Linked DNA regions of Homo sapiens: region 1 is linked to region 2. Evidence: fine-mapped QTL for protein levels in blood plasma. A gene starts in region 2. The other region holds a variant in brackets. All regions are shown on one strand. Distances are between the middles of the regions.

What was found. PIP is the posterior inclusion probability: the model's chance that the variant is causal. Protein levels are from antibody-based Olink assays in UK Biobank. Linkage for the fine-mapping came from a reference panel and not from the study's own genotypes, which makes the PIPs less certain.
Region 1: its variant is fine-mapped to the plasma level of the EPHX2 protein (UK Biobank, PIP above 0.99). The variant lies in the coding sequence of EPHX2. If it changes the protein, the assay may bind it differently, which can mimic a change of level.

Annotation. Positions count from the first base shown.
Region 1 is chr8:27,534,656-27,540,031 of GRCh38, forward strand. It overlaps EPHX2 (epoxide hydrolase 2), which reads left to right. Exons shown (of 19, transcript NM_001979.6): 13 at 2,129-2,200; 14 at 4,004-4,037. Among named protein-coding and RNA genes, the nearest start is that of EPHX2, 46 kb to the left of the region's middle. The variant A/AGTC (reference allele first, on the strand shown) is at 2,162.
Region 2 is chr8:27,488,355-27,493,730 of GRCh38, forward strand. It overlaps EPHX2 (epoxide hydrolase 2), which reads left to right and starts at 2,789. Exons shown (of 19, transcript NM_001979.6): 1 at 2,789-2,955. The coding sequence starts at 2,855. RefSeq lists a cis regulatory region at 532-846 and a silencer at 2,593-2,872.

The DNA of each region.
Region 1 (5,376 bases), 46 kb after region 2:
ATAAAAAAAGTAACCTCTCAACGTGTGCAAGCACTGAGGACTGCAGGTCGCTGGAACGAAAGCTTTGTGGATGTGGCTTTAGGATCTTCCTGTCCTCTGACTCTATCTCAAAGGCAGCCACAGATGCTGCTGAGAACAGGATGAGTCCCCACCACTAAGGGGATCCCAGGAGAGCACATTCAAGGCTCTGCAGGATCCAAGAAAAGCAGAGTTACCCCTTGGTGGTGGGAAAGATGGAACCTCATGGAGAAGGCAGTGTTTGGGTCCGGTGTTGAAGGCCAAACTAATAGAAGTCCATGCTCTTGGTGAAGGTCACAATGTGTTAAACCAGGGAGGCCAGCGAGTAGGAGGCCCGCTCAGAAAACACATGCAGAACAGTTCAGCTGATGTTTGGGTGCGTGCAGGTGGGTGGTTAGAGGGAAGGAGAGGAGAGTCAGTTGGCATTGCCACACTTAACTCAATTCCCTCTGGTAGCACTAGTCCCTCAGCAGCAGCTGTGTTACAGAAATATTTTATTTTATTTTATTTTATTTATTTTGAGACAGAGTTTCGCTCTTTTTGCCCAGGCTGGAGTGCAATTGTGAGATCTTGGCTTACTGTGACCTCTGCCTCCCGGGTCCAAGTGATTCTCCTGCCTCAGCCTCTGAGTAGCTGGGATTATAGGCATGCACCACCATGCCCGGCTAATTTTGTATTTTTGGTAGAGACGGGGTTTTACCATATTGGCCAGGCCGGTCTCAAACTCCTGACCTCAGGTGATCTGCCTGCCTCGGCCTCCCAAAGCTCTGGGATTACAGCGTGAACCACTGCACCCGGCCAAGATTTTTATTATTTCTGAGTGGTTGCCCCTAGTGGATCTCTGCCTCCAGGACAGCTGTTTTCTCCTAAACTACGTCTGGAACAGCTTTCGGGTCCACCATCTTTCAACTTCTGGAAACGACAGCTTGAATTAAAATTGTCCTCTTATGCTCCAAAAAGCCATGAACCAGGCTACCCCCACTAGGAGAGTAGGATCCATGGATGGATCTCTTGTCACCTTCCAGCCATTCCCCTGTTCTTGGTGTCTGCTTTGCTGAAGTGCTCCTGGAGAGGGTTGGGGTAGGAAGGAGAGGGGAAGCAGGAGAGGAAGACTCCACACCCTGAGCCTCCAGTAGGAATCTCCTCCCCAGCCCTCAGCACATGACATTCAGTGACCTGGACACTTCACTTTAGTCCTCATCCAAGCCCCTCCCCCATCCTTTGGTCCACCAGGAAGGTTCTGGAGCCTATTTTGTACATTGGCATCTCTTGGTCCAGTTTGCCAGAGAAGGAGCTCAGTGTCTGTGGAGCTGATGAAGCAAGTTCAGGTCAGAGAATTCCCACCATACACAAGCCAGAGACCTGGGAACAGCCAGAGAACTGTGTGTCGACTGGGTAATTAAATGCCATACTGCTCCCAAGAACTGGAAGGACCTGGTCATTTGTCACCAGGAAGGCTATGTGTCCCAGCTCTTTAACAGTGGAAACCTTGCTGCCCTGTCTGTGGAATACAATCTATTGGCAATCTAATGGTCTGTAACAATTAAGACCCAAGTCAAAGGAGTTGATTTTGAAGTTTCTACAGCAAAAAAAAAATTGTTTAAGTTTCTTTGTAAAGATGGGGTCTCGCTAGGTTGCCCAGGCTGCTCTTAAACTCCTGGCCTCAATATAGCGAAATTTAGATGCCTGGATGGAAGAGCATTTGGTATATAGTTTTTGGCTTTTCTGCTTGGTTTCTCAGAATCCTTGGAGCCCCTCTCTTCTTACCACCAGTCAGCCTCCAACCCATTCCTCTACCAGCCCCCTCCCAAGTCCTTTCAAGAGATTATTATAAGTAGTACCTTCTCATTATAGGAATATTGAAAAACACAAAGAAAGTGGCATCTATAAACCTGCCTCCCGTGGGGAACTACAGTTAGCATCTTGTATTTTATGCTAACCTTTTTAAAAGACATGTTTTATGATGAAAATTCAAATGGATGCTATTCTGATGAAACTTGGGCTGGATGGGGCACAGGTAGGGTGCTTGTTGCTTTCAGTCAGATGAAGGAGGGGTACAGTTTCCACGATTTCTAGGGGGTCCTTCATTTTGCTTTCTTGATTGTTTTAGGGAGTGGCTGAGGCTGAACTGGAACAGAACCTG[A/AGTC]GTCGGACTTTCAAAAGCCTCTTCAGAGCAAGCGATGAGGTGAGGGGTGGGGATGGGTGCAGAAGAACAGGAGGGGGCAGTTGTGAAGGAAGTAGGGTACCTAGTGTGTGGCAGGGACCAGGAGTAGCAATCTGGCCTCCTTTTCTTTCATTTCTATAGTCAGGGTAATTGAGGTCCTCACTCTACTGGGAAAATTTACATCCTCGTTGACACACAAGGTCAGAGAATGATTATAATAATGATGGCTTGGAAATTATGCTATTACCATTACCATTTTAACATGCATAATTGGCTTACCCAAGTACAAAATTAATTGATGTCCCCAACCCTCTTCTTGAAGCAGAGGAGTTTAGAAACCTTTAACTCTGTAAGCTGCACCCTCCTGTCTTAGGTGTTAGGAGTCATCATCACTATTGTTGTTTTATATACAGTCAGTGCCTGCTCAAACTGTCCCATATTTTCTACTTTCTTTACTGATCACTTCTTGCATCTCACTCATTTGCATTGAGTTCAGTTTCTTTCTTCCTGAAACATCCCCTTTAGTAGTTCTCTCAATAAGAGTCTGTTGGTGGTAAATTCACATTTTGGTGCCTGAAGACATCTTAATTTTAATCTTGAAGAATCATTTATCTGAGTATAGAATTTTAGGTTATTTTCTTTTAGAAACTTCTGTCATTGCTTGTGAGTCAGCCTCGGGTCTAACCTCCTATACATTAATTGTCTTAGCCAATTAATTGTCCTGGACACTGCAGTGTCTGATCTGCAGTTTAACCTGTCTTTGAAGTTTTAATTTCAATAAATAGTTTTTTTTAATTTGTGAAAGTTTTATTTGGTTCTTTTTCAAATCATTCTGATCTCTTTTGATAGAGTCTTGTTGTATTCTTATTTTTCAGTTCCTTTTATGTTTTCAATTATTTTAAGTATATTCATTTCTAATTCTCTCTTGTTTCTCTCTCTCCCTCTCGCAAACTCTGTTATTGGATGTTTTTGGGGAGTCGTATTTACTGTTTGCTACATTTTTTGCCTCTTGCTGTGGGGCCTTTTTGTGTGAGTGTGGGTTTTGTAATTTTGGTTTATAAGCTCATCTTCAGCAGTACTTAATCTGTACCCATCTGCTTCAATTGGGCTTGAGGAAATGACCCCTTGAGTGGTTAAGGATTTCTTCTGCCAGGCATCCTGGTGGCATTACCAACCCAGGCTCACTTTGTTGTTATTGTTGTTGTTGTTCTTGTTTACTTCACACCTTGAGAGTTTCCAGATCATGCAGAGAATGCAAACTCAAATCCAAGCACTTGGGAAGGCAGGCCTAGAGCTATGAATTCCCAAGGGGGTGTCTTTTGGTTTCCTCTTAGTACCAAGCTGAAACAGACAAACTCCTTTAACATCTTTATCATCATGAGGGGATTTTTTTTCTAATCAATTTTTTCACTGAGGGTATAGCATGTCAGAGACCCCAGATTTACTGGATTTACCATGGAGGAGCATGGAATATCACATCTTCAACTTCTCATCATAGGCCAAGGTCTCTTTTCTTGTTCCCATTGGCTGATAAACCTAGGTCTTCATATTACCAAGGTCTGCAAGGGCCCTGGGGCAGTCTCAGCCCAGAGCTTTGGTCGTGAGCCCGCTCTTTACTTGACTTCTGTGAGGGGGTCCCTGGCTCTCTTGGGAGTTCCACATGTTTGTTACAGTCTGCGTGGTACTCAGAGGTCATTTGTCATAACAGGGTTTTCAGATGAGCATATTTCCTTTGTCATTTGTCGTAACAGGGTTTTCAGATGAGCATATTTCCTTTGTATCACCCATGACATCATTTGTAACTCTTTTCTTTTCTTCCTTCAGAGTGTTTTATCCATGCATAAAGTCTGTGAAGCGGGTAAGAGACATGCTTGGGAGAGCCATATCTGGAACCAGCTGAATGTTAAAGGGATGTTTCTGTCTCTGACTGCTATGGGCAGAAGCCCTGAGCTCTCCAGCTCTGAACTTTAAGTTGCCCAACCAGGGTCCCCTCGGCATGCATAGGGCTGACTCTAACCCCAGGCCTGAGCACACAGCCTGGAGTTCCTACCCTCTAGGGAGCTGTGGCTTCAAGATCTTAAGCAGTAAGAGCTTGGAGGAGTCTTAGAGCTTGTCCAGGGCAAAATCCACCCTCTACTGATAAGGACCCCAGGATTGAGAGCTTACCTCTATGGGGGTCACCTCGTGTATGCAGGTGGAGTGGAGTGGGGCCCCTGCCCAGGTCTCCTCCATTGCAGTCCACTGGCCCCTCTCCATCCAGGCGCCATGTTTCCAATTCCCCCACCTGGAGCTCATCCTTGTCTCCCTCCTGGGTTGGGTATGAGTGAAGGGTCAGAGTTGAGATTTGATTTGAGCTCATCCCCATGGCCCCTAGATCCAGCACTCTTCCCACAAGACCTTATTTTTGCTGCAGCACTGTGGCCTTGACAGCATTCACTTGTATTTTTATGAATAATGATGACCACTGTCACTTGTTTGGGCACGTGCTGACCATCTGTATAAAACTCTGGACTAACCCCCTTTAGATAAAATATTTGTGATCCTCGAAGCATTCTGAAAAATGCTACTATTTTTAATTTCCAAAGAGGAAAACAGGTCTCAGAGGGTTAAGTAACTTGTCCGAAGTGGCTGAGCTGGGGTTAAACTCCTCTGACCCTGCAGGCCATGCTCTTGTCACTGCTCAAAGAACATCTTCCTTCCCTCCCCCACACCCACATTCCCTTATTCCTTCACACCGTCTGTCACTCATTCATTCACCCATTCATTCATTCCTCAAATGCTGTGAGCACAGGCTGGGTATGAAGCTGGGGCTGCATGCTCAGCTACCCAGACACACGAAGCAGGGTGGCCACCCTCAGTGAGCCCACAGTCTCACGGGAGGCAGAGCAGCTGGGATGCTCGCAGAGGGGCCCTGAGGTACAGTGAGTCTGGAGCACCCGCCTGGTGGGGAGGCTCAGGGTGGCTTCATCACAGGGTGACATCCTCATCACATACCCCTTTGATGTGTCTCACAAAAGCCTGGAATGACCAGTTCCTGTGCCTCCGGGTCTTCGTGAATCTGAAAATGCCGACGGGCCCTGTTCAGGCACCAGCATTGAGGCTGTGCCCTGTGAAATTGCAGTGGTCCCTGGGCTGCCAGGGGTCATCACAGGCCATCCTCTGGAGGGACTGTGCAGCACCCTGAAGACAAGAGAGGG
Region 2 (5,376 bases):
TATTTCATAAATATTAAAATTAGAAGACATAGGGGTTAGGATTTACATTTCAAAAAGCCACCCAGTTCCCATAGCCCTGCTGGGTAAGCCCTTATCTCTCTGTACCTTAGTAGCAGAAAACACAGGAGAAGCACGACCATGAAAAAGGGCAAAGTGCAGTGAAATGCAATTGAGACCTTTAATCTTTGCCTAAGCAATTCAGCCAGAAAGCTCTGTAACTCACAAGGCATTATAAAAATATTCCACACCAGAGCTATTTACAAGTTAACTGCTCCTGAATAAATAAAAGTCCATGTGATAGCTTCATGGCTTTCTCTTAACCAAAGAGGAAAGTAAAACTCATATTTCTATGTTTTTAAATTTTTCTTCTCAAAAGGGGGCTTTATGAAATCTAGTTCTGTAGGTATGTCGTTCCTCTACACTTTACTGCTTGTATAAATATACTTACGTATTCATAAGCAATACTGTGCTAGATGCAGAATTCAGATGCAGGCAACAGAAATCACTGTAGTTATTTTAAATAGAAACAGAAGAAAGGGATTTAAGATGAGAGACTGCAAGCCTACACAATCTTTGAACGGAATGGAGGAGTGAGCTCCAGACTGAGCCTTTAGGAAGGACTCCCAGAAAACACCACCATAGAACTAGAAGCTGCTATCTCTGCCTCAATCAGCAGGCCACCGCTAGAAACACGAACATATGGTTTGGCTGGGAGCCAAGGATCTGGAAGCAACTCCGTGGTCTCGGGACTGAGCCACTGAGTCAATGGGGATGCCAGTTTGTAAGATAGGGAACACACTAGGAGGAACAGGCGTGGGAAGTAGAAATGCAGAGAGAGTTCTGTTTTAGCCATGATAAATTTGAGATGCCTGTTAGACACTCAAGAGAAGATGTTCAGTAAGAAGTTGGATATTGACGTTGAGTAAGATGTTGAGTAAGAAGTTGGCAAGTCTGGAGCCCAAAGGAAACTCTAAGTTGGAGATTTAATTTCTTTCTTTTTTTTTTTTGGAGGTAGAGTCTTGCTGTGTCACCCAGGCTGGATGGAGTGCAGTGGCACAATCATGGCTCACTGCAGCCTCCACTTCCTGGGCTAAAGTGATCGTCCCACCTCAGCCTCCTGAATAGCAGAGACTACTGGCATGCACCACCATGCCTAGCTAATATTTTATTTTTATTTTTTATAGAGAGAATGTCTTGCTTTGTTGCCCAGGCTTGTCTCAAACTCCTGGCCTCAAGCAATTCTCCCACCTCAGCCCCAAAGTGCTGGGATTACAGGTGTGTGCCACCATGCCCAATCTGGAGATTTAACAGGTTTCATACTATATAGGTCAGGCTGCAATTTTCTTTCTATTTTTTAAAATTCAATTATACCTTTGAGATCAACTAACTTCATGAGAAACTAGCTTGCTGTACTCCCTTCTCTGCCTATCTTTCAGTCTTCAAATCCAGAGTAATCCAGTTTCTACCATAAAGGGCCCACAAAAAGTGTTCTGAAACATCCGGTGTCATCCAAGTCCAAAATTGGACAGCTTTTTTTTCAGTTCTTCCTGTAACATTTGGCAGTGTTGGCCACTCTCTGCTTCTTTGGCAAGAATCTCAGAAAACACTAATAACTGCTCCAGGCAGGAGCCTGGAAGAGGTTACCAAGCTAGAGAAGGAAGCAACAGCATAGCTTGCTAAGGGCAAACAGCCCAGAGGAAACCCACGGCTCTGGTCAATCCTGTTGTTGATTGCTAGATCCAGAGACTGTTGTAGACCTCCCAGTTACAGTGAGGTATCTGACAACCCCTCACAAGGTTCTTGAAGCTCCGTGGTGGAGGGTATCTTGGATAAATCCACAGAGACACATTCAAGAGTAAATTCTCCACTGTTGGAGACCTCACTCACTCTGTTTGGTCTCCACCAAAGACACGGTTTTTAATTCATGGAGCTGCACTACAACAGCTCAAGAACTCCCAGCCAAAGTTTTAGTTTTTCTAGGAACATAAACGAGCCAATAGTGTGGAAATCGGTGATTAAAAACAAACCTCGCACATTTTAAGACAGAATTATTACAAGTAGCATGTACAAAAGGAAAATAATAGCCTACATTTAGTTCTTCTAAGCTTCATTCCACAAGAGATTGAAATCGAAGTATTCTGGGCTGGCACACGATAGCTGGAACATCATATTTTATTCTAGAAACACATTTGCCTTGGCAAAGAAGAGCGTGCCTAGAGGAGTGGTCAGGATAGTGAGGGATCTGTGATCCTTCGTTCTGAATCTAGAAAAGTCACTGGATATGCCCCTCCCCCGCCCCCCAACACGGTCTTATGTTCTGAATGTAGAAGTCACTGGATGTGCTGACACACACACACACACACACACACACACACACACACACACACACACACACACACAGAGTCTGTGGCCTCTTTCCCAGGCATTCCAAGTCCAGCAAGTTCGCAGGGAGCTGTCAGTCCGTCCAGGAAGGCCCGGGCCTGGGTTTGCCTCTTCAAGCAGCTACTGCAGGGGCGTGGGGAGGGGGCATAAGAGACTTTGGACTTTCCTTTGAGACAGTAGAAAGCGTTACATCCAGAGGCGAGATTCTAGCCTGGGGTCCCCGCCTTCCCGGCCTCCTCTTCCTCTCCCTCTGACTCCCTTTCCTGTGCCCCTCCCCCTGCCTCTTTCCCGGCCAGAGTCCAGCCTTAACCCGGGCAGAGGGCGGAGTCCCGTTAAGGGGGTGTGGGGAGGAGGCGGGGCCAGGGCAGGGGCGGGGCAGAGCCGGGCCAAGCTGGGCGGGTCATGCGCCCTGGCCTTCGCGCATCTCCCAGGTTAGCTGCGTGTCCGGGTGCTAGGCTGCAGACCCGCCGCCATGACGCTGCGCGCGGCCGTCTTCGACCTTGACGGGGTGCTGGCGCTGCCAGCGGTGTTCGGCGTCCTCGGCCGCACGGAGGAGGCCCTGGCGCTGCCCAGGTAAGGGGGCCCAGCGCCGCCGCCGCAGTGGGTCGGGGCCTCAGGAGGCAGACCGCGCTGGGCTTGCAGCCCAGCTTTCAGATTGCTCCTGTGCCGGAGCCCTGCGAATCATGCGAATCATGAAACTGAAGACCTGGCCCTGAAGTCCCAGTGCATATGAGGAGATCCGTTGTCTTTCTAAATGTTCATAATTAAACGTTGCCAAGGTCTCCAAAATTGCTTTCTGTGAACTTTTCCAAAAGGGAGAGGAGTTACTCATGGAGCTTTGTGCTTCTGCTGCCTCCTGTCTAATGGGGTGGCGCTTAAAGATGCGAGCCGAGATTCAGGAGAGAAGAAAGTTCTCTCCCCAGGTGTGGGTTGCATGCTTACTTGTGTAATAGCAAACTGCAGCAACCGCCCAAAGCCACATCACTGGGAAATGGTAGATGGGGTGTGCAGAGTGAGAGCTCAGGGACTTGGGAAAACACCTGTTCTACTACATGAAAAAACCACCCCACCAGAATCTGAAGCTATTTATACAATATGGTTTCAGCTATGGAAAAAAGGTACATGCAGAAAAGTGCCTGAAAGAAATAGGCCAAAGTACATCAAATGAGATTAGGAATAATGTAATGATTTTCTTTCTCTCTCTCTTTTTTTTGTGTTTTTTTTTTTTGTAGTTTCCAACTTCTAAATTTATAAACAATGTATTATTCCCACATTCAGAAAGGAGAGAAGTATACTTATTTATAAAGTGAAAAAGAAGGCCAGGCATGGAAGCCATTGTTCATATCCTCCTTTTACATATGAGGAAACTGAGGCACAGAAAGAAACCAGCTGTCCAAATCACATAGCTGTTAAAGAGCAGAGCCAGAAATCCAACCCCAGTAGTCCATGTCCGGAGCCTTTGCTTTTAATATAGTAAGGAAGATGAGATGGCAAGTAGCTTGAGGGAAAGGCATGTAATCTCTGTGCTTTGGGAAGCTAAGGTGGGAGGATCACTTGAGGCTGAGAGTTCAAGACCAGCCTGGGTGAAAGAGCAAGACCCTGTCTCTCCAAAAATAAAAATAAAATTAGCTAGACATTAGTGCATGCATGTAGCCCCAGCTACTTGGGAGGCTAAGGCAGAAGGATTGCCTGAGCCCAGGAGTTGGAGGCTATAGTTGTGTCCAGAGTTGGTTCCTGTCGGTGGGTTCGTGGTCTTGCTGACTTCAAGAATGGAGCTGTGGACCTTCGCAGTGAGTGTTACACTCGTAAAGATGGCGCAGACCCAAAGAGTGAGTGATAGCAAGGTTTATCGTGAACAGCGAAAGCACAAAGCTTCCACAGCATGGAAGGGGACCCCAGCAGGTTGCCGCTACTGGCTGGGGTGGCCAGCTTTTATTCCCTTATTGTCCTCTCCCATGTTCCATTTCTGTCCTATCAGAGTGCCCTTTTTTCAATCCTCCCCGTGATTGGCTACTTTTAGAATGCTGCTGATTGTGCGTTTTACAGAGCGCTGATTGGTGCATTTTACAATTCTCTTGTAAGACAGGAAAGTTCCCCAAGTCCCCACTCGACCTAGGAAGTCCAGCTGGCCTCACCTCTCAATCCTCCCTCATAACAGGACACCCCACCTGCTACTGGGAACTGGGTGATGACCACTCTAGCTACTTCCTGCTGGATAGGGGCAAAGAAGGGGCCCTGCCGTTGTAGTGTCCTCCAGAGGGGAACTCTCTAGGCCAGTCAAAGGGCCAGTGGGTCAGTCTAGCAGTCCTCGGTAGAAGTTGTGAGTTAAGCTCATTTGGGGTTCCATTTGTAAGACCATCTGTAGCTTGATGGCCTTGATCCTGGAGGAAACAAATTTGAGGAGGAGGTTAAAAATACAGGGACTGAAGGTGAGTAATAGCAAGATGGCTGTCACGGGACCTAGAAAGGGGAGAAGCCAAGTCACCCAACTCCAGAGGTTGGTATAAGAATTTGAAAGGTGTTGTCTGGTTTCAGAAGCCTTTTCCTGTAAATGCCAGGCAGCATCCTGTACTATCCCTGACTGGTTAGTTTAAAAACAACACTCCTCCCCTAAGAAGGTGCAAAGTCCTCCTTTCTCAGCAGTGAGGAGGTCTAGACCTTAGCGGTTTTGGAGAGTCACTGTTGCCAAATAGTCTATTTGGGATTGTAGAGTAAGGATAGATTTATTTATTGCAAACTGTCTGAGAAATCCTTTGAGAGTGTATGGTAGTAGGATAATGAAGTAGTTAAACTGGCTATTCTGGTTCCTGTAGCAGTGGGCATTCCTAGCCCTATAAGTAGGGGTATTAGTTGTATGGTCCTGGGCTGACAGACTTGAGCTTTGAGGGGCACTGATAGGGTCTGATTTCCTGTGGCATTGTTAGTGTTGGGACTTAGGAGAAGGTGCAGGTGCCTGTCCAGCTGGTGGGAGGCAGATATAGGTTGAAGTTCCAC